Homo sapiens: one gene and its partner. The protein of the gene in region 1 interacts with the protein of each later gene in a biochemical or structural test. Each region holds a gene or a part of one and is shown in the gene's direction. Other genes may lie near its edges. The genes, in order: CAMP and F10.

Region 1 (15,472 bases):
TATTTTTAGTAGAGATGAGGTTTCACCATGTTGGCCAGGCTGGTCTCGAACTCCTGACCTTAGGTGATCCACCTGCCTCGGCCTCCCAAACTGCTGGGGTCACAGGCGTGAGCCACTGCACCTGTCCTGGGTGCTAGTTTTTTTAGTTGTAAAAGTGGATGTGTGTACTTGTGTGTGAGTATATGTGTGAAATTTGCAATTGCAATTCTACTTGCTGTTGGTATAATCACCTAGGCACTAAATTCACAGGAGGCCATCTGCAGCTTCTAGCCTGAGAGTTCTCAATCCCAACCCCATGCCACGACAAACTGAACTGTGAGGTTGTGGCCTGAGCTTACACATTTTTCCCAAGTGATTCTAGTGGACCAACAAGGATGGGAACCCTCCTGCTCTGTGGAGATCAAGGCTCAGGGTGGTAAAGAGGCTTGCAAACGGCACTAAGTAGAGCAATGGCTTGGCTCGCAGCCATGTAGTCAGTCTCTCAGGAGACTCCTCAGGGCTGAGATGAGTATAGAGGTCCCCAAAAGACCTGTCCAGCATGTGGCAGTCCAGCCCTCCAGCCCTTGCCCTTTGCTCTGAACCTCCCAGCCTGAAGTTCTGGCTTCTGGACCCACTCCTCTGCCCTCCACTCCTTCTCCAGGGATTTGCTCACCCCAGCAAAGTTTTGGGATTCACAGATGGGCAACTTCTTGGGGTCCTCAGCAGCACTGAAGTACCCCCGGCAGTTCTTCACTTGCTGTTGGGGAAAAGAACGAGTTCAGGTCATGGCCATTTACTCAGGGGGCTCCAGTGTGGTGCCTGGAAAATTCCAGCCTGGCTGAAGGGGTTGTAATGATTACTTAACTTCTTGGCTTTCCTCCACGCAACTTGTGTCACATGAAGTAGTAAGTGGGAAAGAGGGAACTGAGCCTTAGCAGACGGTCCTGACACTCACCCTGTCCCATATTTCCACCCTCATGGCAGCCCACATCTGCATTTCCAGTTTGCTGCAGAGGGCAGGAGGCAGGGCTTGAATTCTTCCACATGTCCCCATGAGAAGGACAGCAAGGTTGGTGGGTGGGGGCATTGAGTCCAAGTCCTGGTTCTGCCGTTTTCTGGATAGGGGTCCTTGTTCAAGTGATTTATCTGTGGCCCTCATTTTCGTCATCAACTGGCTCATCAGCCTTATCCAGTTTCTCCTGGGGGCTCTCACCCTCTCCCCGCACTCTGATGAAGCCAGCCTGCCTCTCCTGCAACCCTTCTTCGGGGAAAGGAAACAAATGTTCTCATATTGGCACACAAAAGAGTACAGGCACACAAAAGAGGCAGCAGCCTCTTGGGCGGTCACTTGTTCCTGCAGCTCTGTGTTGGCCTAATCCTTGACTAACTCCCTAAGTCTTTTTCGCATATGCAGCCCCGAAGGCACTCAGATCCTGGAAAGGTCAACTGCTGAGGTTACACACTCTATGAACAGCATTAGAAATGGCTGGACATGTGCCCAGAACCCATTTGGAGACCTTGGCTCAGGTCTCTCCCCATTCAAGTCCTCAGAATCTGCATCCAGAAAGAGAGAGGACTGGAGTATTCAGGAGGTGGCCCCTGAAACCCTCTGTGACCTCAGGTTGGAGAGGAGGTAATTTGGGCTGCACATCTCAGCTCAGAAATAGCACCTGGCATCTGGTACCTGGCCTCCACGGCTCTTAGCATCTCACCATCCTTGGCCACAGGCTCCTAACCTCGCCCACAAGGCAAGGGAAGGATCTGTTCCCCAGTCACCTTGGGGAAGAGAGGTTCTAAACTGAGAGATAGTGGAGGATGGATCCCCACAAGCCATGATTCTGGGGCTCCCAGAAACTGCACCCCTTTCTCAGTGCAGCCTGAGTGATGCTCCTATAATAAAACCGCCACCCGAGGAGGGCCTACTATGCACCCTTGCAGAGCTGCTTCCCTGCAGCCATGGCATCCAAGGCCTTCTCCAGTCAGCTCCCTGCTGGAGGATGGCCCACTTCTCACTGTTGTCTCCCATACAGCGAGCTTTTTCTTTGGAGGCATTGTCAAGCAGGTGCTTCTGAAACATTTGGAAAAAGACAGCATGTCACAGGGACAAAGCTGGCCCTTCCCACCCAGGGTTGTCACAGGATCTTCTCTCCTTCCAGTTCCCCACCTCCAGCCACACTTCTTTGTCTAACTCAGCATTGTCCAATAGAACTTTCTGTGATCAAGGAAATGTTCTATATCTGAGACATCCACTGTAACTGACTGTTGAGCAATTGAAATGGGGGTAGTGTGACAGAATAATTGTTTTTTGTTGTTGTTATTTATTTACTTATTTTTTGAGACGGAGTCTCTCTCTGTCACCCAGGCTGAAGTGCAGTGGCACGATCTCGGCTCACTGCAACCTCCGCCTCCTGGGTTCAAGAGATTCTCCTGCCTCAGCCTCCCAAGTAGCTGGGATTATAGGCATGCACCACCACACCCAGCTAATTTTTGTATTTTTAGTAGAGATGGGGTTTCACCATGTTGGTCAGGCTGGTCTTGAACTCCTGACCTCAGATGATCCACCTGCCTCGGCCTCCCAAATTGCTGGGATTACAGACGTGAGCCACTGTGCCCAGCCGCCTTTTTAATTTTAATTAAGTTCAATTAATTTGAATTGAAATTGAATTGCCACTTGTGCTTATGGCTACCATACTGGCTAATGCATTCAAGTAGAAGTGAGCAAGTTCTGATGAACAGGGAGCAGTGAGAGGGAACCTGGTCAGGGCTCAGGTCAGGGAGGAGCCAAAGAAGGAGGAAGCAAAGAGTCCATCGGAGTGAATATGAGGGTCACTAAGCAGGGGGTGAACAGCAGGAGGCCTGGCACACAGTCTCTGGCCACTGGAGGCACAGGAGTGCTGGAGCTGCACAGGGTTTATGGATTGCTGACAAGGAGACAGGCTGGGAGCTGGGGAAGCGCTAAGGACACGGTCACCTGGCAAGAAGCTCAAGGCCTTGTCTTCCTCATTGGTGGCAATGTAGGGTTGAGAAAACTGGATTGTGCAATGGGCCCCTGGCTCTGGGTTGGTATTCCTGGACAAGACAGCATGTGATTACCTACAAGTGCCTTGGCCTTTCCCAGGAGAAACCATGCTGTGGTTTGACCGTCCCTCTCCCCTGCAAAGGACGACAGCGGGTTCCTCTGAGTGGTATATCCAATATCCAGGTCTTTCCTTTATGGCTGGGCAGAGCCTCCACCCCCGGACACCATGTCCCAGGCCCTTCTTATGAATCAGTCTAGGAAACAAAGGCACATTTACTGGAAACTGCCTATCACTATCCCGTGCTGTGTAGTGTTTCATTTGACAAATGATTTCTGAACTTGGGTCTGGACCTGCTGGGAGCGGCTCTTACCCATCTGGGCCCTCTGAGGGCAGAGCCCAATGCCGATTCTGAGAGGGGCCCAGTGAGGAAAGGAATCCTGACCTTAGGGAGTCTGTGGGCTGAAGGGAATGCAGGGGCTTGCCCTTGGGAGTCCCTGTCTGAGGGACAGACAAGACTGTCACACTTGGGAAGCCCTTGGCCTGGGAAGGAGATGCAGCCCCATAATCAGGAGCCTGGACAGAAGGAGAACTTGGGGAAGCCTTGTCTAAGGGGCATCCCAGGGCTTCATGACTCTTGTCTGAGGACAACTGTGGTCTTACCCCTGGGACTAGCCTGATGGATAAACACAGCCTGAGACTAAAGGTGGGGTTGGTGAGCTGTCTCCTAGCCTGGTGTTGGTGGGGGACGCATCACAGAGGATGCCAACTGGGGGCTGAAATCCAGGGGACAACCTGGAGAGGCTGAGTCTGAGCCAAAATATGACAGGGGCCTGGGGTAGTAGGTTATGTTATTAGCAAGAAGGGGAGCACAGTTCCCCAACAAGATACATATGCACAGTTTCATGCGTGCATATGTATCTTGTTGGGGAAGAGTTGGGCTAAGGCCATTGCCAAGTAAGGAGACCTGACCCTGACCTCACTTGCCAAAACATCCCGGGAGTACAGGACTTGACAGTGGACATGCACTTGCTTACTCACTGTTGCATTTGAACAAACACTGCAGGGCATCTCATTCCCATCCTACAAATATGAGAACATTATCAAGAAAACAAGGCAACTTGCTCGAAGTCACACAGCTAGTAATCGACGGTGCTTGAGACCCTCCACCCCAGGTCTCTTGGCAATACAATTCTGCAAGTGAAAGAAAGGCAGAAGGAGGAACTTGTCCTGAGTCTGGGCAGAACCTGTGATTGGCATTCCCTGTCTGCCACAGGGTATAAGCATACCCTGCCCCATGCCCCAGGTTTAGGGAAGGAAACGTCTGCCTTTGAGTATATATTCAATACATTGCTCCAATGCATTGCTGTCTACAAGGTTGGGGCTACTGTCCCAATTTTTGCACGAGAAAGGTTCAGGGAGGGAGGCAATTTACCAGAAGTTAGCTCTTGGCCTGAGTCACCCCAATTTTCTATTTTTGAGTCAGGGTCTTGCTCTGTTGCCCTGACTGGATACAGTGGCATGATCACAGCTCACGGTAGCCTCCATCTTCTGGGCTCAAGCAATCCTCCCACCTTAGCCTCCCAAGTAGCTGGGACCACAGGTGCACACCACCATGCCCAGCTAATTTTAAAATTTTTTTGTAGAGACAGGGCCTCGCTCTGTTGCCCAGGCTGGTCTCGAACTCCTGTCCTGAAGCACCATGCTTGGCCAACAAAGTTACTATCTCTGGGAGCACACTATGTTTACTTCTGAAGCATTAACCTAACAGGTCACATTAATAACAACAAAAACAATTCACATGTACTGGCCACAGACCATGTTGTATTTGACCCTCACAACAATTCTACAAACTAGACATTGTGATGATCATCCCTGTTCTACAGATGAGGAGGCAGGAGAGCAGACACATCGGTATGCAGATACACAGCTGGTCGCAGCAGGGCTGAGCCAGGAACCCAGTCAGCCTCATGAGGGAACCTGGGCTCTTTGCCTGCAAAGCCCTGGGCTTTCTGTGCTGACTATAGATTCTGGGCACAGGGAGGGACAGGGACAGTGACTCACCCACAGAGACAGAGGCTGGTGACGAATATGGTTCCTGGGATTCCCATCCCAGGACTCCCTCCCCAGTGCTCCCCAAGGGGATGAACAAACTGCCTGCTTGGTTCTCTACTTTTCAGACAAGTTGGCCATTCTGATGAAGGCTGTCTCAGGGGCAAGCAGGCCTGAGGAGGTGGGTGCTTCCACCAGGACAACCAGGGCTGCAGACACGGAGCCAGAGAGGGAACGCAGAGTGGGGGCTAAGCTGGGCTTTGTTCGCCAATGGGGGAGGGATTGTGGAGTGGGAGAGGGTAGCTCCAGCATCTGCTCATCTGTGGAAAGTCTCTCAGAGCCTTCAGCAGTCCCAGTGCACCAGGTTCCCTGATCACATTGTGTAGGAGTTGGAGCCTCCTGGGTCTGCAGGAGAGGAAGGGGCCACTTAGAGAAGTCAGGGTGGGAGATTCAGAGAGAGAGAGGAAAGAGAGAGAGATAGAGAGACAGAGGGACAGGGGCTGCCCAGGCCTTTGTGAAGGGACATTTATCTAGCCCTCAAGTCTTGATGTGGAAAAGCCTAACTTTTTTTTTTTTTTTGAGACGGAGTCTTACACTCTTGCCCAGGCTGGAGTGCAGTGGCGCCATCTCAGCTCACTGCAAGCTCCGCCTCCTGGGTTCACACCATTCTCCTGCCTCAGCCTCCCAAGTAGCTGGGACTACAGGCGCATGCCACCACACCCAGCTAGAGACGGGGTTTCACTGTGTTAGCCAGGATGGTCTCAATCTCCTGACCTCATGATCAGGCCACCTCGGCCTTCCAAAGTGCTGGGATTACGGGCGTGAGCCACCGCGCCCGGCTAAGCCTCACTTTTCTTTTCTCATTCCGCCTTGCCTAGAATCTTCTGATCACTCTATTAATGGGGTGAGCCATTATGAAAAAGGCGAGCTGGTGAGAGCCTCCTTTCTCCCTCTCTAGGAGGAAGGGGCAGCCATGGGTTCTAAAGGTCTGAAGTCAGCCGCCCTACCTCAGGTAGTGGACACCGACCTGCATGTGCCGAGGGCAGGACTCACTCCTGGAACCTGGGAAGCCTGGACCTTGTGCGATGGCCCTGAGAGGGAAAGCAAGTGCCCCTGAGTCCAGACTTCTGCAGTTGTATCAGAGGGCCTATGCAAGCTGCTTGGGCTCTGGCTGATTTCATGTGAGGGCGTGTCCAGCACTGGCCGAAGTGGAACGTCCTCTTGAGGCAGTTGGAAAGGGGCTCTGAATATGCCAGATCTGACCTAGAGGAACACAGGAGCATGCAGCTCTCACGCCCTAGCCTAAGGACTAACATTGCCATCTGCTTCTCCCCGGTTTGGCTTCTTGGGGATCCTGAAGCCAGTCAGAAGGGTGGAGGAAGCAGGAGAGCCCTGAGAGGTCTGATATCCCTGGATGGCCCTTTTCCCAACAGCCATAAAAGACCTGATGTGCAAGCCCTGCTTGACCAACAGGCCACTGGGGCAACACTTGAACTGTGAAACCAGGTTGCACAGAAGCCCACTTCTTCCTTCTCTCAAGGCCAGGTGTGCAACCGGTGGCCTTCGTCCAGGCTTCCACCTTCCAGGAGCCCTGCTGTCCAAGCCCCCAAGTGTCCCACAGGCCAACTGAGGTCAAGAGGTACCCCAGGCCTCAGGGCCACATGGCCAGTCCACAGAGGAGCTGGGACCGGAATTTGCCTCATGGACGCTGGACCCCTCTATCACTTTGGCCCTTTATCTCTCCTGGCTGTGATCTCTCCCTCTCCCAACACCAGCCACCCATCCCAGCTTGGTGTCTCAGCTAGAGCACCAAACAGGGAGTAATTTGAGGTCGAATCAGGAGAGACTTCCTGGAAGATGTAGGGGCAAAGAGGAGATTGCTGTGCCTGGTTGGAGGTCAGGGAAAGCTTCATGAGGTGAAAGGGCAGGCCAAACAGAAGGATCGGGGCAGAGCTGGGAGAAAGAGCAGGAGGCTCAGATGAGCCTATGTGATGGGGGCATACGTGACAGTCTGGCACTTGCAGTGTGCAGGGCTGGGGTGAGGGCAGTGGGAACCAAAAGGCCACAGGCCCTGATGCCAGCCTAGGGGGTGTGTGGGCTCCTGAAGGTAGAGGGTTGAAATGGCCAAATTGGTGGTTTAAAGGAACCCCTGGACAACGGTGTGGAGGGTGGACTGTGGTCTGGGGAGAGCCTGAAACCTAGAGAAGGTGGAGTCTGGAGGCTGGGGCAGCATTGCATGGGAGAGAAGATGGCGGCAGGAGCCAGGCAGGGGTGGAAGGAGAGGCCAGAGGGGAGTGCTTTCGGGAGGAAGGAGCCAAAGGTGCTTCAGGGCTCATGCAGTGGGCACTCAGCAGAAGAGCAGTCAAGGAGGCCCAGTGGGGACAACCGGGACGTTCATGGGAGTCTCGAACTCAGAGATACAGACTGGGTGGTGTCTGCCTATTATAACTGGTGTCCTGGGAGAGGGCGTCCCCAGGGAAACCCGAGGCCAGGGAAGAGAAGCAGCCCAGGAGGTGACCCCACACGCTCTCAATATTAAGAAGACAGCCCTTAGGGGAGACCAAGAAGGAGCCACCAGGGAGGCAGGAGGGACAGCAGGAGAGTGGCATCAGGGGAGACCGGGGCAGCAAGAAGGAAGGCTCACCAGTGCCTGTGCAGACAAAGACCAGGCTTGAGGGTGGCCATGGACCAAGGGTGGGTTGGCCAGCCTTCAGTGGCCTTCAGCATGAAGAAGAGTGAAAAGATGGGGTCAAGAAGCGTAGACAACCTTTCCTAAGACTTGGCTTGGGAGAAGCCATGGTGAAAGGCCATGTCTGGAGGGGCTTGGGAACATTTTGAGACTGAAAAAAACAGTGAAGAAGGATGCAGAAGGGGATAGATGGAGCAGAGCCTTCGTCTGGCTGACGGCTGGGTCCAGAGAGCATGTGGTATGGCCTTGAACTGAAAGGGCAACTTGTCCCTTGCAAGAGTGAGTCTCTAGGTTGGGGGTGGCTACTGTCTTCATTTACCAGTTCTTTTTTTTTTTTTTCATACTGAGTCTCACTCTGTTACCCAGGCTGGAGTGCAGTGGCATGATCTCAGCTAACTGCAACTTCTGCTTCCCGGGTTCAATGGGTTCAAGTGATTCTCATGCCTCAGCTTGTAGCTGGGACTACAGGTGTGAGCCATCATGCGTGGCTAATTTTCATATTTTTAGTAGAGATGGGGTTTCACCATGTTGGCCAAGCTTGTCTCGAACTCCTTATCTCAGGTGATCCGCCCACCTTGGCCTCCCAAAGTGCTGGGATTATAGGCGTGAGCCACCGTGCCCTGCCTCATTCATCAATTCTTAATCGATGCCTACAGGGTGCCAGGCAATGCCTAGAGCTGGAGATTTAGCAGTCCATCATACTGACTCCTGAGGAGTAGAAGGATGTAGAATAGGCACCTGGCTCTCTTCCTCTCTGGAGGGATTTAACGCTCTTGAGCACCCCTGGCTATGACAATCTCCGGTCAGGTCTGGGAGGTTGTCAGAGATGAAGAAACCACTTCCTCATCTTGCACACAAGGAAGGCCTCACTCACTGCCCAGCAAGTCCTGTGAAGCAATAGCCAGGGGCTAAAGCAAACCCCAGCCCACACCCTGGCAGGCAGCCAGGGATGGGTGGATCAGGAAGGCTCCTGGTTGGGCTTTTGCATCAGGCTCAGGCTGGGCATAAAGGAGGCTCCTGTGGGCTAGAGGGAGGCAGACATGGGGACCATGAAGACCCAAAGGGATGGCCACTCCCTGGGGCGGTGGTCACTGGTGCTCCTGCTGCTGGGCCTGGTGATGCCTCTGGCCATCATTGCCCAGGTCCTCAGCTACAAGGAAGCTGTGCTTCGTGCTATAGATGGCATCAACCAGCGGTCCTCGGATGCTAACCTCTACCGCCTCCTGGACCTGGACCCCAGGCCCACGATGGTGAGCTTTGGGGGACATTCTGCTCTGCTCTGGCTGGGCTTGGCCACGTGTTGTTCCTTCTGCTCCTGCTGCACTGCCTGCCAGGAGGGCATCTCCCCCTTTAAATGTGGTCCCGTGTTTTCCAGGGAACCTTCTAGAGCTCGTGTCTCCTCCCAGCTCGAGAGCTTCCTGCCTTATAATTCCTGCTGTGGCAGAGATACCCTCACCCCGACCCCACGCAGGTTTTGGGACTTCTGCGAGCTCCAGGCACTAGAATGGGGTCATTGGCTCTGGGCAGTGACCTCCTCTGCTTTAAGTCTCTTCTGTACCACGTTACCCCACATAGGGAAGAACTCTATCCAGACTTTAGGTTCCAGTGGGCATGTCTTGTCCCCCAGGAAGCCCCCTGACTTCCCTTGCCCCCACCCCAGAGTGGGAGGGGCTCCTTGTTAGAGCTCATCTGAGGTCTGCTCCTACTCACTGTTCACCTAGGAGGGTAGGAATGGCTCAGTCCTCCTCCCCTCAATGCCCCAGTGCCAAGCCCAGCACCCAGTGCCCGTCGCACATCAGGTACTGTGGAAAGCCTGCCCTCTTGGTGGGGAGGTCATGGACACAAATCAGAAAATACAAGAATGGGCCTCCCCATTTCCTCCTCTGACTAGGATGGGGACCCAGACACGCCAAAGCCTGTGAGCTTCACAGTGAAGGAGACAGTGTGCCCCAGGACGACACAGCAGTCACCAGAGGATTGTGACTTCAAGAAGGACGGGGTGAGGCTGGGGGCTGGGGGTGTTGGTGGGTGCCTCCCAAGGAGCTGAACAGGGGGCACCTGGGGAATATTTCCCACTGGGATGTGGCTGGGAGGTCATGGCAAATGGTTTCAAGTTTGACCTTGAGCTTCTCCTTTCCAGCTGGTGAAGCGGTGTATGGGGACAGTGACCCTCAACCAGGCCAGGGGCTCCTTTGACATCAGTTGTGATAAGGTGAGTGGGCTGTTCTGGGATGCAGGGGCTGATGGGGGCATAGAGTGTGGACCATCCAATGGGTCAATTAACTACTCCCCCAACCCAGGACAGAGAAAGCCCCTCCTACCCAGGGCTCTTCCCCAAACCTGAGTTCCATCTCCAGGGCCGGCTCTGGAATCCCTTAGAGCGGTAGATCTCCAAGTGTAGCCCTTCCTGGGGACTCGTTAGATATGCAAATTCTCAGGCCCTACTCAGACCTACTCAGACAGACTCTGGGTAGGGCCCAGAAATTCGTATTTTGATAAGCTTTCCAGGAGATTCCGGCTTCTGTAAAGTTTGAGAGCCACTGTCTAAGAGTACTCAGCTCTCAGCCCTGTGTTCCCATCTCAGTGTTGCTGGGCTGGGCTGTGTGACCCTGCAGAGCCCCTCACTATCTCCGGGACTCTGTTTTCTCATCTTTTTATTGGGTGTAGGGATTCAATCACATGCTTCAAAGGTCACAGCCAGAGGTTGAACTGGGGCCCCAAAGCTCCTGCGGGGGCCCACGAAGAGGGGCGTCTAGGTGGGGAGGGGTCTTGGATTGACCCTGGGTACATCCCCGACAAGGAACCTGTTTCTTCCTGTACACAACCCCAGGATAACAAGAGATTTGCCCTGCTGGGTGATTTCTTCCGGAAATCTAAAGAGAAGATTGGCAAAGAGTTTAAAAGAATTGTCCAGAGAATCAAGGATTTTTTGCGGAATCTTGTACCCAGGACAGAGTCCTAGTGTGTGCCCTACCCTGGCTCAGGCTTCTGGGCTCTGAGAAATAAACTATGAGAGCAATTTCCTCAGGCTTCAGTCTCACTTGTTTTGCCTCCTCTCTCTCACCACAACTGAGCCCTTAGCTCAGGGAGTCCACGTGTGAGTGTGAGTGTGTGTGAGTGTGACACAGAGGTGGCGAGGGCAGTGTTCCATCCAGGAGGACACAGGGTAAGGCAGTAGGGCCAAGAGATCCAAGATGGCATTCCCATTCTCAGTGGAACCCCCAGTGGGGAATTAAGGAGCTCTACTCTGTGTGTGGTGGTGGGGGAATGCTGTGGAGCTGTTCCTGCTCATGGGGAGGTGACATTCAAGGGAGGGGCCAAGCGTGTTGTTAACACTCAGAGAAGCATGGTCCAGTCCCATGGGTGGCTGGCCAACTGGGTGCGGTCTCCCTGCAGGTACAATTCCCATAAAATTCCAATGCTTCCTAAAAGACTTAACTCAGGAAAGCCCATAACTCCTGGCATTTCCTCTGGCATTGGGACACATCACAGTTTCTTCAGGTGGGTAGCAGATTTAACTTGTGAGCTTGTGTTTAGGGATTGTTAAAAACAAGAATATGGCCAGACGTGGTGGCTCACACCTGTAATGCCAGGACTTTGGGAAGCGAGGCGGGTGGATTGCTTGAGGTCAAGAGTTTGAGACCAGCCTGGGCAACATAACAAACCCTGTCTCTACTAAAAATACAAAAATGAGCTGGGCATGGTGGTGCGTGCCTGTAGTCCCAGCTACTCGGGAGGCTGAGGTGGGAGGATTGCTTGAGCCTGGAAGGCAGAGGTTGCAGTGAGCTGAGATTGCGCCACTGCACTCCAGCCTGGGTGACAGGGTGAAACAAAGGTGACTGGGCTCATAAAAACCAAAAACCTGCCAGGCGTGGTGGCTCATGCCTGTAATCCCAGCACTTTAGGAGGCTGAGGCTGGTTGATCACCTGAGGTTGGGAGTTTGAGACCAGCCTGACCAACATGGAGAAACCCTGTCTCTACTAAAGTGGCAAAAATTAGCCAGGCATGGTGGCACATGCCTGTAATCCCAGCTACTTGGAAAGGCTGAGGCAGGAGAATCGCCTGAACAGGAGGCGGAGGTTGTGGTGAGCCAAGATCGTGCCACTGCACTCCAGCTGGGCAACAAGAGCGAAACTCCATCTCAAAAAAATAAAATAAAATAAAATAAAAACCAAAGACCAAGAATATGTTGGGTGTGGTGGTGCACACCTGTAATCCCAGGTACTTGGGAGGCTCAGGTGGGAGGGTCACTTGAGCCCAGGAGTTCAAGGCTGCAGTGAGCTATGATCATGCTAGTTCACTCCAGCCTGGGCAAAGGAGTGAGACCTCGTCTCTAAAACAAGCAAACAAACAAAAAAAGGAGAATCCTGCTCAGTGGAGTGAGGTGCTGTGGCTAGAAGAGACATGCAGAGTGTGACACACAGGTCGCGACTCTGTTGTGCTGGTGTTTCAGACATGGATCGTGTTCTCCCCACTCACCATTCTGTAGCCACTAGAAGCACCTGCAGCTTTTTGCTATGGGGTTGCTCAACTGGAAGTACTGGGAAGTCTATGCGCCAGGGAGCAGCCTCAACCAATGATAGGTGGGAGCTGGTGGAAAAATATTTGTTCTTCTCACCCGTGGGGGGCACACTCAGAGGTGTGTTTCACATCTCCCAGAGGTCCCCAGGTGGGCTACCCTCAACAAAGACCTGTTCATGACCACATCCTCTTCTGACTTGTTCGTTCCCTGTCTCACTTCTCTACACTCCTGCAGGTGCTTTCTGTAGTTGCTTCCCAAATACACTACTCTCACTTAAATCCTTAACTCAGGTCTGCTTCCAGGCCAACCTAAACTAAGACACAGGCATCCCTCTCTGAGAGGAAGAGAAGGCAAAACCTCACAAGAACACTTGCTTTGTTTTCTGTTATGCTTGCTTCTTCTTTTCTTTTTTGAGATGGGGTCTCACTATGTTACCCAGGCTGGTCTTGAATTCCTGAGCTCAAGCGATCTTCTTGCCTCAATTCCCAAAGCGTGAGCCACTGTGCCCTGCCCATGCTTGCTTCTTCATGACGAGCAGGTGTGGCTGATTTCAAGCAGGTTGGAGGAGGTAGATGCTTCTCACTCTGTATCATTACAGAGTGCTAGAGAGAGTTCTAGGGAGGAAACTCAGGGGCATATGCTGTGTCAGAGCCAATTGTTAAATTTTCAGGAATTTTTTTTTTTGAGACGGAGTCTCTCTCTGTCACCCAGGATGGAGTGCAGTGGCGTGATTTCGGCTCACTGCAAGCTCCGCCTCCCGGGTTCACACCATTCTCCTGCCTCAGCCTCCCGAGTAGCTGGGACTACAGGCGCCTGCCACCACTCCTGGCTAATTTTTTGTATATTTAGTAGAGACGGGGTTTCACTGTGTTAGCCAGGATGGTCTCGATCTCCTGACCTTGTGATCTGCCTGCCTTGACCTCCCAAAGTGCTGGGATTACAGGCATGAGCGACTGCGCCCGGCCTAAATTTTCAGGACTTTTTTGAGCTCGGTGTTAAATTCTTGGCGGCTTAAAATTGGCCATGGTGGGAGGCAGTATTTACACCATGGAAATCTGCAAATGCTGCAAAGCAGCATCCCCAACCCCAGCTGTCACACCACTGCCCAAACTGAGGGAGGGGTCACTCACAAGGATACCAAGAGCCTGTGCCGACTGCATCTATTTCCAGTTTCCTCCCATGATTATCCATCCTGCTACCGTGACAACCCTCTTATTACCCCTGCCCTGCCTTGCTCTTTGATAGTCTACATGGGCGTTAATGAGATGGCCCTCGTCATGAACCAGATAGATATAATCCAGGCTGGATTTTTTTTTTCAAGACGGACTCTTGCTCTGTCACCCAGGCTGGAGTGCAGTGGCGTGATCTCGGCTCGCTGCAACCTCTGCCTCCCGGGTTCAAGCAGTTCTCCTGCCTCAGCCTCCAGAGTAGCTGGGATTACAGGTGCCCGCCACGCACTCAGCTAATTTTTGTATTTTTAGTAGAGATGGGGTTTCACCATGTTGAGCAGGCTGGTCTTGAACTCCTGACCTCATGATCCGCCTGCCTCAGCCTCCCAAAGTGCTAGGATTACAGGTGTGAGCCACTGCACCTGGCCTTGGATTTTAATATTATACATTCATTGCTATTATAGTCATTTTAATCTTCTGATTTCATTTTATTTATTTATTTATTTTTTGAGATGGGGTCTCACTCTGTTACCCAGGCTGGAGTGCAGTGGCAGGATCTTGGCTCACTGCAACCTCCACCTCCCAGGCTCATGCAATCCTCCCACTTCAGCCTCCCGAGTAGCCAGAACCACAGGTGTGCACTACCACGCCCGGCTTATTTTTTGTATTTTTAGTAGAGACAAGGTTTCACCATGTTGCCCAGGCTGGTCTCAAACTCCTGAGTTCAAGTGATCTACCCACCTCGGCCTCCCAAAGTGCTGGGATTACAGGCGTGAGCTACCACGCCCGGCCCAGTATCTTGATTTTTAGCATGCAGACTAGTTTTACCTGATTTTGAACTTTATTTATTTTATTTTTTATTTTTATTTTTTATTTTTTTTTGAGATGGAGTTTCACTCTTGTTGCCCATGCTGGAGTGTAATGGGGCGATCTCGGCTCACTGCAACCTCCGCCTCTTGGGTTCAAGTGATTCTCCCGCCTCAGCCTCCCGAGTAGCTAGGATTACAGGCATGCACCACCACGCTGGCTAATTTTTTTTTTTTTTTTTGAGACAGAGTCTCGCTCTGTTGCCCAGGCTGGAGTGCAGTGGTGCAGTGTGGGCTTACTGCAACCTCAGCCTCCCAGGTTCAAGCAATTCTCCTGCCTCAGTCTCCAAAGTAGCTGGGACTACAGGCGCGTGCCATCACACCTGGCTAATTTTTTGCATTTTTAGTAGAGACAGAGTTTCATCGTATTAGCCAGGATGGTCTTGATCTCCTGACCTCATGATCCACCCACCTTGACCTCTCAAAGTGCTGGGATTACAGGTGTGAGCCGCCGTTCCCGACCTAATTTTGTATTTTTAGTGGAGACGGGGTTTCTCCATGTTGGTCAGGCTGGTCTTGAACTCATGACTTTGGGTGAACCGCCCGCCTTGGCCTCCCAAAGTGCTGTGATTACAAGCGTGAGCCACAACGCCCAGACTTGATTTTGAACTTTAAATAAGTGGAATGATATGATACATATTCTTTTTCCTGGCTTCTCTCTCTTCATATTATGTTGGTGAGATCACCTCTGTTGATGATGTGAGGTAGAGATCAAGTTTCTTTTTTTCTTTTTTCATACGGATATCTAATTGACCCAGCACCTTTTATTGAAATAATTATTTCCCAACCCCGACATATTTTTTTTTTTTTTTGAGATGGAGTCTCGCACTCTCGCCCAGGCTGGAGTGCAGTGGCGCCATCTCGGCTCACTGCAAGCTCCGCCTCCTGGGTTCACGCCCTTCTCCTGCCTCAGCCTCCTGAGTAGCTGGGACTACAGGTGCCTGCCACCACACCCAGATGATTTTTTGTATTTTTAGTAGAGATGAGGTTTCACTGTGTTAACCAGGATGGAAATCTCCTGACCTCGTGATCTACCCGCCTCTGCCTCCCAAAGTGCTGGGATTACAGGCATGAGCCACCGCGCCCAGCCTGACATATTTTTTAAATACTGTTCTATTTTCTGATTATAAAATCAAGACACATGCCAAGCATGGTAATATGTGTTTGTAGTCCCAGC
Region 2 (15,392 bases), on another chromosome or scaffold:
CAATGCACGCACACATCAGTGCACACGGATGCACAGAGATATGCACACACCGATGTGCGCACACACAGATATGCACACACATGGATGAGCACACACACACCAATGCGCACACACACCGATGTACACACACAGATGCACACACAGATGCACACACACCGATGCTGACTCCATGTGTGCTGTCCTCTGAAGGCGGTTGTTTAGCTCTCACTTTTCTGGTTCTTATCCATTATCATCTTCACTTCAGACAATTCAGAAGCATCACCATGCATGGTGGCGAATGCCCCCAAACTCTCCCCCAAATGTATTTCTCCCTTCGCTGGGTGCCGGGCTGCACAGACTATTCCCCACCTGCTTCCCAGCTTCACAATAAACGGCTGCGTCTCCTCCGCACACCTGTGGTGCCTGCCACCCACTGGGTTGCCCATGATTCATTTTTGGAGCCCCCGGTGCTCATCCTCTGAGATGCTCTTTTCTTTCACAATTTTCAACATCACTGAAATGAACCCTCACATGGAAGCTATTTTTTAAAAACAAAAGCTGTTTGATAGATGTTTGAGGCTGTAGCTCCCAGGATCCTGTGGAATTGGATGTTCTCTCCCTGCCACAGCCCTTGTCAATGATATTTCACAGAGACCCTGGGAGCACCTGCTCAAGAGTCAGGGACACACGCATCACTAAATGCAAGTTCCCAGGCCCTGGCTGCAGTGGGAGGACCTGGCAAGCTGCACTCTTGCTGAGTCCCCAGGGTGGTGGAAGAAGAATGAGAAACACATGAACAGAGAAATGGGGAGGTGACAAACAGTGCCCCCACTCAGACTCCGGCAAGCACGGCTCAGAGAGTGGACTCGATGCCATCCCTGCAGGGCCGTCCTGGGCACCACTGGCACTCACAGCAGCAAGGTGGGCACCATTGGCACTCACAGCAGCAAGGCAGGCACCAGCAACCCACCTCGGGGGCACTCAGGCATCATCTACTTCAGAGCAGACAGGGTCTATGAACTACAGCCGTGGGCTGCTTCCAAGGCACCCTGCTCTTGTAAATAAAGTTTTATGGGAACACACCCATATTAGTGTCCATGGAGTGGCCGTGGCAGAGACGTCCAGCCGGACAGACCAGCTGACCCGCCAAGCCCAGCATGGTTAGTGTCAGGACCTCTGCTGAAGATGCTTGCTGACCCTGGCCAGACCCCGGTTCCTAATGCCCCCTAAACGGGACGGGAGCCAGTGGCGGGCCCTGATCCAGGTCAGAGCTGGCTCTGCTTTCTCTTTTGTCCGAGTGACCATGCCTCAGTTTCCTCATGTGTAAAACAGGAGCCCACCGTGATGCTTATGGTGGGATGAGATCAGCATGGATGGAACAAGGCCCTGGAAGGGCCCATGCCATGGTCATCGACAGCAAAGCCACTCTGCAGACAGATGCTTCAGTGAATTGGTAGAAAATTCTGCAACCAGAATGCCCGGGGCTCCTGAGGGCCTAAGCCCAGCCCAGGGTTCTGGAAGCCACTCTGACTTCTTGGGAGTGGAAGTTGGCAGGACTCTTCCTGGGAAGAAGCGGAGGGTGGGGATGAGAGGACAGTTCAGGAGCCCACCCAGACCCACAGGAGGAAACTAGGGGAGTCATGCGGGGTCCTGGTGGAGCGCCAGCCTCCCTTCCTGCCAATGGGAAATGCAGGCGCCCACCTCATGGTGCTGCCGGAGGAGGGGGCCCGGGACTCCCCAGAGGCTTCGCTGAAGGGCCTGGGCGCCCCCAAAGGCTACATGTTTCATATGGGACGTGCCACCTGCCACGGCTCAGCTCCAGCTTTCTGTGAGTGGCGAGATAGAATACGGGGAGGCCACTGGCCATGGGCCTGGGACAGGGTGGGATGAGGCGGCAGGCTTGGGCCACCAAAGCCAGCATCGCCACCCAGCATTGATGACAAAGACTGCGTGTCTGCCATGAGCATCCTGCTGTTGGTGCACACACCGCATTGGTCTCTCCATACAAACATGCCTAGAGGCGATGTCAGAGGGTGGAGACCAGGAGAGGCAGGAGTCAGACATCTGGTGCCACCAGGAAGGCCCTTCTCAGAGGACCAGGCTGTGCGTGGTGCCCGCCGTGGGAGGCCAGCCTGGCGTTGGCATCCAGCATCATCAGTTTGTGCAGTCGGGTGGGGCTCAGTGAGTGCCTCCTGTGTGCCAGGCACAATGACGCACAATGTGTGCACACCAGGCTCATGTGCAGGTGGCTGCGAGACAGGGCGACCCATCAAGGCAGATGCACCATGAGGCAGTGGCCAGTGCTGTGGGTGTTAGGGGCATTGCTCCCCGGCCACTACGGCATAGCAGGCAGTGATCGCCACACTGGCCAAGCTTTAGACCATTTATTCCAGAGACCCCAGAGGCAAAAAGCCCGGCTGCACCTCCCAGTGACTCCCACAGCCATTGAGCAGAGACACTCAGGACCTTGTGATGGGAGGTTTCTGCACTGGAGAACGAGCCCAGAAGCCCTCTCAGCCTCGGAACAGTGTGGCCAGTGGTGGGCAGGTCAGGAGGGGCTTCAGACACAGCCTGTCCCTCCAGATGGTCACGGGAAGGTCACTCCCCACAGAAGTACGTTTTGGGGCCATGCGGGCACAGAAGGTTTGGGGGTGGGTGGGGCAGGTGCCAGCCTGGCCTGTGGGAGGCCATGGTGCAGATGCCAAGCCCCCCCCGTGACATGAGACCACCTGATACCACCCAGAGAGTGGCTGTGAGCGGAAGGGCCCGCCCAGAAACAAGCAGGGCCTTGGGGCAGAAGTCCTGGGCTCAGATCCCACGCTCACTGCCAGCGGCCTCGGCTCAGGCTTCTGCGCTCTCTAAACTTAGTTTTCTCTTCTGGAAAAATGATGGGGAAAATGATATTTGTATGTGAGGACTGAGAGTTAAATGTAAACATCTGGAAACTACAAAATGAGCACGAAATGATGTTTTTATTCTTAGAACAGAAAGTCCCCACACCCGCGGCCCTGGTGACTGATGAGGATGAGGTTCTGCGGGGCCTCTCTGGCCGCCCAGCTCTGCCTGGGGAAGGTGGGGCCAGAGTGGATGTGTTCCCAGCGTGGTCACTCCCCTGCCTCGCCAGCAGGTCTCGGCTCCAATCAGGAGGCCTAAGCCAAGTGATAAGCAGCCAGACAACAGCCATCCCAGCTGGGGCGTGGACTTTGCTCCAGCAGCCTGTCCCAGTGAGGACAGGGACACAGTACTCGGCCACACCATGGGGCGCCCACTGCACCTCGTCCTGCTCAGTGCCTCCCTGGCTGGCCTCCTGCTGCTCGGGGAAAGTCGTAAGTGCCCCTCGCCCTTCAGACCCAAAAGCAGCGCCAGGGAGCAGGGAGGGGCGGCAGTTGGGGAAACCCTCTCATCTCTGCAGCCTGGACGGTGGGTGCCTTGAGTGCTGCCAGAGGCTGGGCTCGGATGGCTGGGCTTGGCCTTTCCAGCCAACGGCATCCTCAAGGCCAGCTGTGGCTCCCTGGGGCTGAGAGTCAGACGGGCGGATCAGAGGTCACAGAGACAAAAACACAAGGACAGAGTCAGAGAGAGAAAGGGAGAGGGAAGGAGAAACGGAGACACAGTGAGATGGGAGGCCAAGAGGCAGAGACAGAGGTAGAAAGACGGAGACAGAGAGAGAGGGAGGGGTTGGGGCAGGCAGAGACAGGACAGTTAGCCATCTGCCACCACAGGGAGGCACAGGACGAGGGGCACAGCAGAGGAGCTCCCAGGGAGGAGGAGGCTGAGCCGAGCCAGTGCCACCACTCTCGGACTGGCTCCGTCGGGGAAGGAGCTGCCTAATGCACAGCTGGACAGGTGGGGGCAGCAGGGCTGTCCAGGACCCCCGGGTCTGTCCAAAAGCAGAGGCCCAGACAGGACAGAAGCCAGGCAAGCCTGGGGACAGCGGAGGAAGAGGAGGCCCCTCTGGTGGGGACACGAGAGACAGGGACCCTAGACTTGTTTGCATCCTGGACAAAGTGGACAGGCAGGGGCACCAAGGGGACCCAGGCCTGGGAAGGGAATGTGTGAGGGAGAGACGGAGCAGGGGGAGACCCTCGTGGGGTGGAAAGGGGAGACCCCTGGGAAGGCTGAGTGGATCCTCAGTGCATCACTGACCTAAACGGCCCCTCCGCCTGGTGACTTGGAGCTCCAGTCACATCACACGGGGGTCTTCTCCATCCCACCCTCAACCCCCTGCCCTCCCCAGCCTCTGTCCCCTGAGCCACATCTTCCTGTCTCCCACGCGGAACGGGACTCCCGTCTTCATGGGGTACTGTGTGGCTCCAACTCGCCCAGCCTTCTTCCTCCCCCTCAGGCCACACTGCCCCCTGCAGGAGCCCACTGTGATGCTTGTGGTGGGATGAGATCAGCGTGGGTGGAACAAGGCCCTGGAAGGACCCATGCCATCATCATCGACAGCAAAGCTACTCTGCAAACAGACAGATGCTTCCGCGAATTGGTAGAAAATTCTGCAGCCGGAATGCTCTAGGATCCTGAGGCCCTAAGCCCGGCCCGGGGCTCCCGAGGCCCTAAGCCCGGCCCGGGACTCTGGAAGCTGCTCTGGCTTATTGGGAATGGAAGTTGGCAGGACTCCTCTTCCTGGGAAGAAGCAGAGGGTGGGGATGAGAAGACAGGCCAGGAGCCCACCCAGACCCACAGGAGGAAACTAGGGGAGTTATGCAGAGTCCTGGTGGAGCGCCAGCTTCCCTTCCTGCCAATGGGAAATGCAGGCGCCCACCTCGCGGACCTCTGGGTCCACAGGGTATTGGCACCCTTAGCTGTGTGATGCGGGCCTGGCTCATAACCATGGCCTGTGGTGTCCCCGGGGGCCGGCCTGGACCCTGGGTGGACATGGCCAGCCCCGGAGAGCCAGGGCCAGGCCATCTCTCTCCCCTACTCTGCCTCAGAGGCCTCGGCAGCTGCACTGTGGGGTGGGTGGGGCTGAACACAGGTCCCAGAAGGTCCCACTCAGGACCCTGCTGTGCACACTTTTGATTTTAATAAAATCAGAATGCGCACAGCATCTGCAGTCTAGCCTTTAAACGAGCACAGCTGTCCTGGCAGTCACGGAAGTTCTTCTGGGGCGGTGGGACCTCAGCATTCCTTTGCTGGTACTGCTACAAGAAAGGACAATGGACCAAGTAGCTTAAAGCAACAGAAACATTTCTCCCACAGCTCTGGAGGCTGGAAGTTCAAAATCAAGGCGTCAGCGGGGCTGGTTCCTCCAGAGGCTGGGAGAGAGTCTGCTCTAGGCCTGTTTCCTGGCCTCGGGGTGCCAGCGGCCTCACAGCCCATGGCTTGTGGGAGCATTGCTCCCATCGCTGCCTCCATCATCGCATGGGGTTCTCACCATGGCTGTTTTTCTGTCTTCTTTTCTCTCAGAAGGACACCAGTCATTGGATTTAGGGCTCACTCTACTCCCATAAAATGTCTTCCTAACTAAATACATCACAAAAGTTCTATTTCCAATTAAGGTCAGGTTCTGAGGTTCTGGGAAAGACATGAATTTGGAGGGACATTATTCAGCCCTGTCCTGCCACCTGTGAGTGTTTTCTGCAATCCAACTTTTTATTTTAATAAAATCAGAATACGCAGAGCACCTGCAGTGCCAGCCTTTAAACTACTGCTGTTGTACTGGCAATCATTAAAGCTACGTGGCTTCAGTTTCAATCTTTACATTCAACAAGTTTAAACCCATTCTTCATGAGTTTGGACCTTACTGACTGAAAATTTTGCTTGCTGGTAAAACTTGCTCAAATGCAGTTGCTGACTGTGGAATTCACTGATGTTGCCAAAACAACAAACACAACTGTGTGCTCGAGGATTGCAATGCTCCCAACAGCTTCTGAAGAAACAAACCACACGACAAATGTCTACCAATCTGGATGCTCCATATCAGAGTTCTAGAGTGTTCCATTAATTTCTTGAGACAAGTGCCTAAAAACCTTGTTTTAATTTCGTTTTGCCAAAATCCCATTTTACTCACATCAGAAAGTGTGGCCACGTGGCCCAGACCCGGCCTGCTCAGTCTGACTGAAGCGTTGATGCGACTCAGCCATAACAGATAGCAGAAGCGCCCAGATTCAGTCCAGAGGGCTGAGCCAGGCACGCCATCTTTCCTTCATTCCCTCAACACATATTGGTTAAGTTCCGGCCGTGCTAGGCACGGGCATACAGCTGTGACCAAACACGTCAAGTCTTTTTCCAGCGGAGGGAAGGATAAGCCTGTCAGCATGTAATGTCAGAGAGGGGTTGGGTGCTAGAAGACAAATAGCACAGTGTAAGGGGATGAAAGAGACACGAGTGGGGGCAACGTCAGAGGGCGTGGTCAGGGAGGGTGTCTCGGAGGGCGCTGGGCCTGAGCCACTTGGGTATCTGTGGAAAGAATGTTCCAGACAGGGAGGTGACTGGTGCAAAAGTCCTGGGGTGTGAGTGTTGGGCTCAGCCAGGGTCAGCGCAGAGCCCAGTGTGGCAGAGAGAGGTGAATGAGGGCAGAGTTGAAGGTGGTGAGGCCTGGGAGGCCTGGCCATGGGAAGACCCTGGGCTCTGTTCTAAGACCACTAGAGGCAGATTCTGGGTAGTCCTTGACTTCCTTGCATCACCCTTTCCACCCCGTGCCTGCCACCTGTACCCTCTTCCTCACACAGTCCAGCTCAACCTTATAGGCCGTGTCCTACCCCCATGAGCTGGGGAGAGCTGAGCAGGCTTCAGGGAGATGGGAAAAGGCGGGAACTGGACAGGGGCTGCAAAGGAAAGGTGACTTCTTACTGGTCAATCAGCCTGGGGATGCTCGGGGGTGGATGCCAAGGGGAACAGAGCTGTGGCCGCTATCACAGAACAGCGAGTTCCTCTAAGAGGTCAGAGGAGGCGCAAGGGATCGACCAGAGACAGTGAGGGCGTCAGGCTCCAGTTGAGTGGGGACCAATCCTTGTGGCAAGTCTGTGAACCATCACTGTGGCTCTAGGGTAGCAGAGAAAAAAGCAGGCATATGTCCATCTGGCCACAAGGAAGGAGACCAAGGGGAAGAGAGAAGGTACCAAGAGAGGTGTTCACATGGAGGTGCGTCAGAACACCGAGGGCAAGGCAGAACGCGGTCTTCAGACCCCAACTGGAGCCCAGGAGGCCCGCGAGTCCCAGTTTGGGAAACACTAAGCCAGGCTTGGATAACTTGTCTGAGGCTGTGGTCATCCCAACATGAGAGCCAGAGGCCCCAAGGGAGATGGGCATTCCCCACCCCTCAGCTTCCTCAGTGCCTTTTGTGGAGTGGAGGTGACATGAGGCTGCAGGTTGCAGGGAGCCACGTGTGGGCTGCATTTCAGAGCAAGTGTGTGGGAGTGGAGCAGACACGCAGAGTAATGGGGCAGGGTCAAGAAATAATAAATCTAAGTCTAGCGTTGGTGGGATAATGTCGGTGTCACTAAAAGAAATGGGGAATTTGGAAGGTAAAGTAACTGGAGGTAGGAATGAACCCAAGATTTACTAAGCACCTTCTGTATACCAAACTCAACACTAGGAGTTTATACAATCTTTAAAACAGCTCTAAGAGTAGATATTATAATTCCCTTCTGCCAATAATAAATAATAAGTGACTAAGGTGTTTTTGAAGCTCAAGATTGCTTGATTCTGCAGTCTTGTTTTAAATTTTGGACATGGAGAGTTTGGAGTTCTGAGATGAGGGAAGGCATCTGTCATAGTGAGAGAGCTGAAAACATGGAGCTCAGGACAAAAGTCAGTGCTAGAGAGATCAGTTGGAAGAGTTATCTTTATTGTAGTGAGACATTGAATTTTTCAGTGGAAAAAAAGCACAGAAAAAGACTACAGAGGGCCAAGAAAAGAAACTGAGGCTGTCAAAATGAAAAGAGGAGGAGGAGTGGGTGAGAGACAAAGGAGACACAGGCAGAGAGATGTGGACAGCACAGCCCACAGACACACACTCTACAAGGGACACAGACTCTCGGATCCAGGGCATTTTAACCAGCAGATCAAGACTCATTTGCCAGTCATGAAATCAACTCAGTATTTTTTTTTAAAAGAGTAGAATCAAATAGAAAACTTTGTACTAAGTACTGTATTTTAGGAAATACTAATAAATACTATTTCTTGAAAGTTGGCATGTATGTGTGTCCTGGCACTTCATAAATTGTACTATTATAGTTTGTAATTGAAACAGCATCACCAATCCCCACATAACAAAGAGCAGAGACCTTAAAGACGAGTGGGGCCAGGCTGAAGGGGCACAGCTTGAGCCAAAGCACAGAACAGTGGGCTGAAAGCACCCTAGGGAGGGAGAATTCAAGGAAGGGGGCTTGGGTGGCCAGGCTGAGCCAGCGTGAGCATGTGAGGAGGCTGGTGAGCTGATTGGGTGGGATGTGTCTACTTCTCCAGAGAAGGGTGCATGGGTCTAGAGCAGGTGCCTCATGCTGTACCTCATAGAGAACTGGGGGGAGGGGGGAAATGGGCATTTCCCTCCACAGCCCCCAAAGTGCCTGAGGAAAGTGTTGATAAAGAAGCCAAACTCTGTAAAATATTTGAAGAGATTTATTCTGAGCCAAATGTGAGGACCACGACCCATGACACAGCCTTGGAAGGTCCTGAGAACATGTGTCCAAGGTAGTTGGGTCACAGCTTGATTTTATGTATTTTAGGGGGACAGAAGTTACATACAGACACCAATCAATAAGCATAAGTTGTACACTGGTTCGTTCCAGAAAAGGGGAAGGTGGGGGCTTCCAGGTCATAGGTGGCTTCAAAGATATTCTGATTGGCAATCAGTTGAAAGAGTTATTATCTAAAGACCTGGAATAAATGGAAAGGAGTATCTGGGTTAAGATAAGAGGTTGTGGAGACCAAGGTTCTTGTTATGTAGATGAAGACTCATAGGTGGCCACCCTTAGAGGGAATAGATGGCAACTGTTTCCTCTTCAGACCTTTAAAAGGTGCTACACACATGGCCAGGCGCCTTGGCTCATCCTGTAATCCCAGCACTTTGGGAGGCTGAGGCAGGTGGATCACTTAAGGTCAGGAGTTCAAGACCAGCCTGGCCAACATGGTGAAACTCCATCTCTACTAAAAATACAAAAATTAGCCGGGTGTGGTGGTGCTTGCCTGTAGTTTCAGCTACTCGGGAGGCTGAGACAGTAGAATCTCCTCCTGAGGCAGGACAATGGCTTGAACCTGGGAGGCAGATGTTGCAGTGAGCTGAGATTGTGCCATTGCACTCCAGCCTGGATGACAGAGCAAAACACCATCTTAAAGAGAAAAAAAAAAAAAAAAAAAAAAAAAGGTGCTAGACTCTCAGCTCAGAAAAAGACCTGGAATGGTAAGGGGGTTCTCTACAGAATGTGGATTTCCCTGAGATAGCTTTGCAGGGCCATTTCAAAATATGTCAAACAAATACAATTTGGAGTAAAATCATTTATTTTAGGGCCTGCTATATGTCATGTGATCCTATACTAGAGAAGTCAGGTTGGAAACTGGTATCTTATTGCTACAAAGACTCTGTTTGGTCAGCCTCAAGGTCTCTTAACGTGAATGCTGGTCAGCTGTGCCCGAATTCCAAAGGAAGAAATAATGAGGCGTGTGGGACCTGCTTCCCCTCATGGCCTCAACTAGTCTTTCAGGTTCCTATGGAATTCCCTTGGCAGAGAGGACGGGTCCACTCAGTGAGTTGGGGGCTTAGAATTTTATTTTTGGTTTACAAGAGAGTGATCCGCCTTTTGTGATCTGGATATGGCAAGGGACATGGCAGTCAGGGAGCATAGGTGAGGGGGAGCCTGGGTGAGGGTGACCAGAGCTTTTAACCCTGTCCTCCCTGCCTTCCAGTGTTCATCCGCAGGGAGCAGGCCAACAACATCCTGGCGAGGGTCACGAGGGCCAATTCCTTTCTTGAAGAGATGAAGAAAGGACACCTCGAAAGAGAGTGCATGGAAGAGACCTGCTCATACGAAGAGGCCCGCGAGGTCTTTGAGGACAGCGACAAGACGGTAAGGGCTGGGGATAGCCTGGCTGTTGGTAAGGAGCTCAGGCCACAGCGCCCTCGCTGGCCCCGCTGCTCCGTCCATCCAGGGGGGCGGCCTGGAGGAAGGGGCAGCGTGCGCGAAGGCTTTCAGGGGCGGGGCCCAGCAAATCGAGGCCTCGGCGGAGTCCTGCCCACAGGGACATCAGTGCCGCCCCCGCGCTGACTCCTTCCCGGCGAGGACTCAGCGGGGAGGGATGCGCCCAAGTCCCTTGAGGGTCACAGGGCTTCTGCCAGAGTTAAGTTCTATTTAAAAATAAAATGTTAACCTAAAAACCAATAGTCATGGTCTCGGCCAGCGCCTCGCCGAGTTGCAGTGAGCTGAGATCGTGCCCTCCCACGCCCGCAGCCCGCGTCCTGCCTTGGCCTCCGTAGTCGCTGAGAGCCACAGCCTAGAGCGCCAGCGCGCAGGCGCACAACTGACGCCAGGCCACGAACCCAGTACTGCTCCTGCACAGCAGAAGCACTAGCACTGAGGCCGGGCGGCGAACCCGGCACTGCGCCTGCGCAGCAAAAGGACACGCACTGAGGCCAGGCCGCGAACCCAGCACGGTGCCTGCGCAGCAGGAAGACCGGCATCCACACCGGACGACGAACCCAGCATCGCGCCTGCGCAGTAGGAGGAGAGCAATGCCACCAGGCCGCGATTGCGCAGCCGCAGCAGCCCCGCGCGGAAGACGCTACCCTCCTCTCCCCCGAAGAGGCGGGGCTTCGAACGAACCTGGAAATGGCCGAGGGGTCTCGACTTCCTCACCCCAGGCATCAGGAAAGGTGCCTGCAGGACAGGGCTCTGAAGTGGAAGTGGGCGGTGGTGATGCCGAACTGACAAGAATGAGCTGAAGAGAAGAAAGTAGCCGAGAAGGGGGCCAAGCCGGAGCTCAGTGAGCAACAGCTAGGCCAGCCGCGGCTGGTGCCATCAGCCACACCACTAACTGTGGACCCAAATGGAAACTTTGAGGCCCCTTACAGGTCCCCCAGCGCAGGCCACCGCCGAAGGTTACTGGGGAAGACCCCTGCAGCTTCCATGTGGACATTACTCGCTTGCTTCATCCCGGAGTGCAGTCACCTGCAGCCTGGGACCACCTGACTGATGTCACCCTGGAGATCCATGCCAAAAGAGCTGGGGAAAGTTCACCTTCTAATGACCCCTGCGGACCAGGGTGAAGTTACAAGTTATGGCCAGGTCAAGGAATTATAAGTCAATAAATAAACTGCCTCAGGGAGACGTACTCAGAGTCCAGGAAAATCTAGGAAACACCAAGAAGGGCGAGCGCAGCATCAGCCCCTGCAAAATTGCACTGCTGCCTCCTGGCTCACATGTTGCCCCATCCTTACTTTAGCCTCAAAGGCAAGGAGACCCAATATTATTTGAGTACTTGGATTTGATCCTGAGTGACTTTCTGAGAAAGCAGTGTATCATCTGCCCTAAGATCACCACATATATGACAAGGTTTTTGGATGAGTTGAGATTTCTAGACATTGAAACCCTCATGATGAACGTCATCCCGGGTAGCAGGGGCTAAGCCTTTCATCACCTGCTACAACAAGCTGGACATTAACTTGTATTTGAGAATTGCTCCAGGACTCTACCTTCAGATGCTGGTTAGTAGCATTGACTGGATTTATGAAATTGGATGCCAGTTAAGGAATAAGAGAATGTATTTGATTTGCCACCCTATATGGTCTGTGCAGACTGTCATGATCTCATTGAAATCCAAGAAAAGATTATGTCAGGGATGAAGCACATCACAGGTGGTTACAAGGTCACCCACCATCCAGATGGCTCAGAAAGCCAAACCTATGGGTTGACTTCTCCTCACCCTTCTGGAGAATCAGTGTGGTAGAAGAGCTTGAAAAAGTGCTGGGTGTGACGCTGCCAGAAACTAACCTCTTTGGAACTGAAGAAACTCAAAAAATTATTGGTGATATCTATGTAACAAAAGCTTTTGAAAGTCTTCTACCTCAGAACATATTCAGGCGCCTTGATAAACTTGTCAAGGAGTTCCTGAAAGTGACTTACATCAGTCCCACATTTATCTGTTATCACCTGCAGATAATGAGCTCTTTGACCAAATGATCTCTCTAAGAGGGTCTCACTGAGCACTTTGAGCTATTTGTCATGAAGATAGCTGAATGTTTCCATGCAGCAACAGCAGCAGCTGTTGACAAACAAGACAAGGCCAGCAAAGATGATGAGGCCACATTCATAGATGAAAGCTTCCATGCAACCCTGGAATATGGGCTTCCGCCCACAGCTGGTTGGAGCGTGACAATCAAATGTGTTACCATGTTTCTCACAGACTCCCACAACATCAAGGAAATATTTCTGACTCCTGGCATGAAACTTGAAGAAAGAGAATGTAGCAGCCACTAATACAATGGAAAGCGCAACATTGACACGTCTATCTAGAAAATTTTAATTGTCTAAGTTGTGTGACTCAGATATCTTTGCATTTCTGCAAAAGATCAAGGTCTACTCTAATTCTTAATTAAATTAAGAATTCCTTTTTATTACTTGTTAGCAAATAAATGGCTTGTCTCTAACAGAAAAAATTTAGAATTTTCGGAAATATTTTCAAATACTTCTTATATATACATATATTTTTTTCCACTGGTAGAATTTTTCTTTAGTAAAAGTAAATAATGCTGATCCAAGTTTATGTTTCACTCAGCATCGTTTCTCAAACACTCTTCTTTACTTATATATAGCTACCCTATAGCTAAGCTATATTTTATTGTATGATGCATTTACTCTTTTCAGAGTTTGGCCATATAAGTTATTTCTAAATATTGCTATTAGGAAAACACATATGCATGCATTTCTTCTAGATTATCATCTAAGAGTGGCTTCTCCAGAGAGAGACGACTGAATTAAAGGTTATCAACAAGTTCCAATTCCAGATAAGATGAAGAAATCACATTCCACACTGCCTCTCCCACTGAGTGTAGCTCCAAAACATGGATAGAATGCATGTAGCAGCTATTTGACGACCCTAAAAAGTAAATCGCAGTGTATTGCAGAATAAGACTACAATTAGATGTATGATATGATACAACTGGCTGTGAGTTTATCATTTTTTCCTCCAGTCTTCCAGACATCACTTGACCTGAATCTAATGGACATTTATAGGATTCTCAACAATAGCAAAGTACACTTTCCTTCCACATATGGAAAATTCCTCAAGGTAGACTATATCCTGTGTCTTAAAGCATACCTCAATAAAAAGATTGAACTCACATAAAGTATGTTTTCTGACCATAATGGAATTAAAGTAAAAATTACTAACAGAAAAATAACTGGAAACTTCCCTAAGTACTCGGAAATTAAGTCACACATGTATAAATAATCTGTGAGTCAAAGAGAAAATTTTAAGGGGAGTAAGAAAGTATTTTGAGCTGAACAAAAATGAATATGTAACATAAAATCTGTGGGATGCAGCTAAAAAAGCAGTGTTTCAAGGGAAATTTATAGCATTAAATGCTCACATGGGAAAAGAAAGACGGTCTCAAATTGTTTATGTAAGCTTCCACTTTAATAAACTAGAAAAAAAGAAAAAAATAAACCAAAAGGAAATTGAAAAAGCAGAAATCAAAGAAATTTAAAACAAAAATAATAGACAAAATTAATAAGCTGATGAAACTCAAACAAGACTGACAGGAATAAAAACAAACAAACAAAAACAAGAAAAAGGACCTATGTTGGAAATGGAAGAGAGGGGACATCACTACAGAAACTGTAGATGTTAAATGTATAATAAGAAAATACTTTGAACAACTCTGCATATATAAATTTGCATGAGATTTGAACTTGGATGAAATGAGCCTATTCTTCAATACCACAAGCCACCAAAACATACACAAGGTGAAAGAGATACCTGCCAATTCAATTCTTAATTTAAAACCTTCTGAAAAAGTAATGTTCAGGTACAGATGGTTTCACTGGTAGAATTTTACCAAACATTTCAAAAAGAACACCAATTCTATACAACTCTTCCAGAACATAGAAGAGGGAACACTTCTTAGTTTGTCTTAGGCCAGCATTACCCTGATGTCAAAACCAGACAAATACTGAAAACAAAAACCACCCTACGTAACAATATCTCTCATGAATCTAGACATAAAAATCCTCAACAAAATATTAGCAAACGGTGCAGCAATATATTTTTAAAAGAGTAATAATACACCATGACCAAGTGAGTTTTTCTGGGGCACACATGACTGGCTCAATATTTAAAAATAATTATGTAATCCACCATATAAACAAAAGAGAACATCCACATAATCATGTCAATTGATGCAACAAACAAATCTGGCAAAATTTAACATCCATTTATGATTTTATAAAAAACCTATCAGCAGAATATGAATAGGAGGGAATTTTATGAACATAATAAAGTTCATCTACAAAGAGTCTACAGTTGATATTATACTTAAAGGTGAAAACTGAAGGTTTTCTCCCTGAGACTGGAACAACACAAGAATGTCCATTCCCAACACTCCTAATTCAACATTATACTGGAAGTCCTAGCTCTAAGGAAGGCCTTCAGTAAGTCAAGAAAAAGAAATAAAGTTATCACTATTTGAAGATGACATGATCATGCATATAGAAAATCCTAAAGAATGTGAAGGGGAAAAAAGCTTGTTTTAGTCCCTTCTCACGCTGCTGTGAAGAACTACCCGAGACTGGGTAATTTATAAAGGAAAAAAGGTTTAATTGACTCAGTTCTACATGTCTAAGGAGACCTCAGTAAACTTACAATCATGGCAGAAAAGGAAGCAAACGTGCTCTTCTTCACATGGCTGTAGGAGGGAGAAGAATGAGAGCCGAGCAAAAGGGGAATCCTCTTAAAAAAAATCAGATCTCATGAGAACATACTCCCACGAGAACAGCATGGAGGAACCACCCTCACGATTCAGTTACCTCCCACTTGGTCCCTCTCACTACACATGGGGATTATGGGAACTACAATTCAAGATGAGATTTGGGTGGGGACAGAGCCAAACCATATCAATGCTCCTAAAATTTGCAAATGAGTGTAACAAGGTCACAGAATACAAGGTCAGCACATGTGTTAATCACATTTTTATGTAATAGCAATGCACAGTTATTTGTAAGCCAAAAATTTTTAAATGCCATTTACAATTGCTTCAAAGAAAATTATATACTTATATGTAAAGCTAATAAAACATATACAGGATCTTTATCCCAAAATCTACAAAATTCCAATGAAAGTATTTAAACAGACCTAAATAAATAGAGACACATACAGTGTTCATGGATTGAAAGACTCAACATATTAAGATATCAATTTTCGGCCGGGCGCGGTGGCTCATGCCTGTAATCCCAGCACTTTGGGAGACCGAGGTG

What was found.
Region 2: the proteins of CAMP (region 1) and F10 interact in a test that uses a peptide from one of them, tested with the Homo sapiens proteins (one study listed by BioGRID).

The regions. Positions count from the first base shown.
Region 1 is NC_000003.12:48,214,726-48,230,197, forward strand, and holds CAMP (cathelicidin antimicrobial peptide preproprotein), read left to right. Parts: upstream 1-8,769; 5' UTR 8,770-8,786; coding exon 8,787-8,987; intron 8,988-9,628; coding exon 9,629-9,736; intron 9,737-9,877; coding exon 9,878-9,949; intron 9,950-10,567; coding exon 10,568-10,699; 3' UTR 10,700-10,760; downstream 10,761-15,472. UniProt on the Homo sapiens protein: Antimicrobial protein that is an integral component of the innate immune system. Binds to bacterial lipopolysaccharides (LPS). Acts via neutrophil N-formyl peptide receptors to enhance the release of CXCL2.
Region 2 is NC_000013.11:113,119,621-113,135,012, forward strand, and holds the start of F10 (coagulation factor X isoform 1 preproprotein), read left to right. Parts: upstream 1-3,178; 5' UTR 3,179-3,235; coding exon 3,236-3,305; intron 3,306-8,534; exon of another isoform or gene 8,535-8,805; intron 8,806-9,114; exon of another isoform or gene 9,115-9,257; intron 9,258-9,831; coding exon 9,832-9,992; intron 9,993-10,385; exon of another isoform or gene 10,386-10,426; intron 10,427-15,392. UniProt on the Homo sapiens protein: Factor Xa is a vitamin K-dependent glycoprotein that converts prothrombin to thrombin in the presence of factor Va, calcium and phospholipid during blood clotting.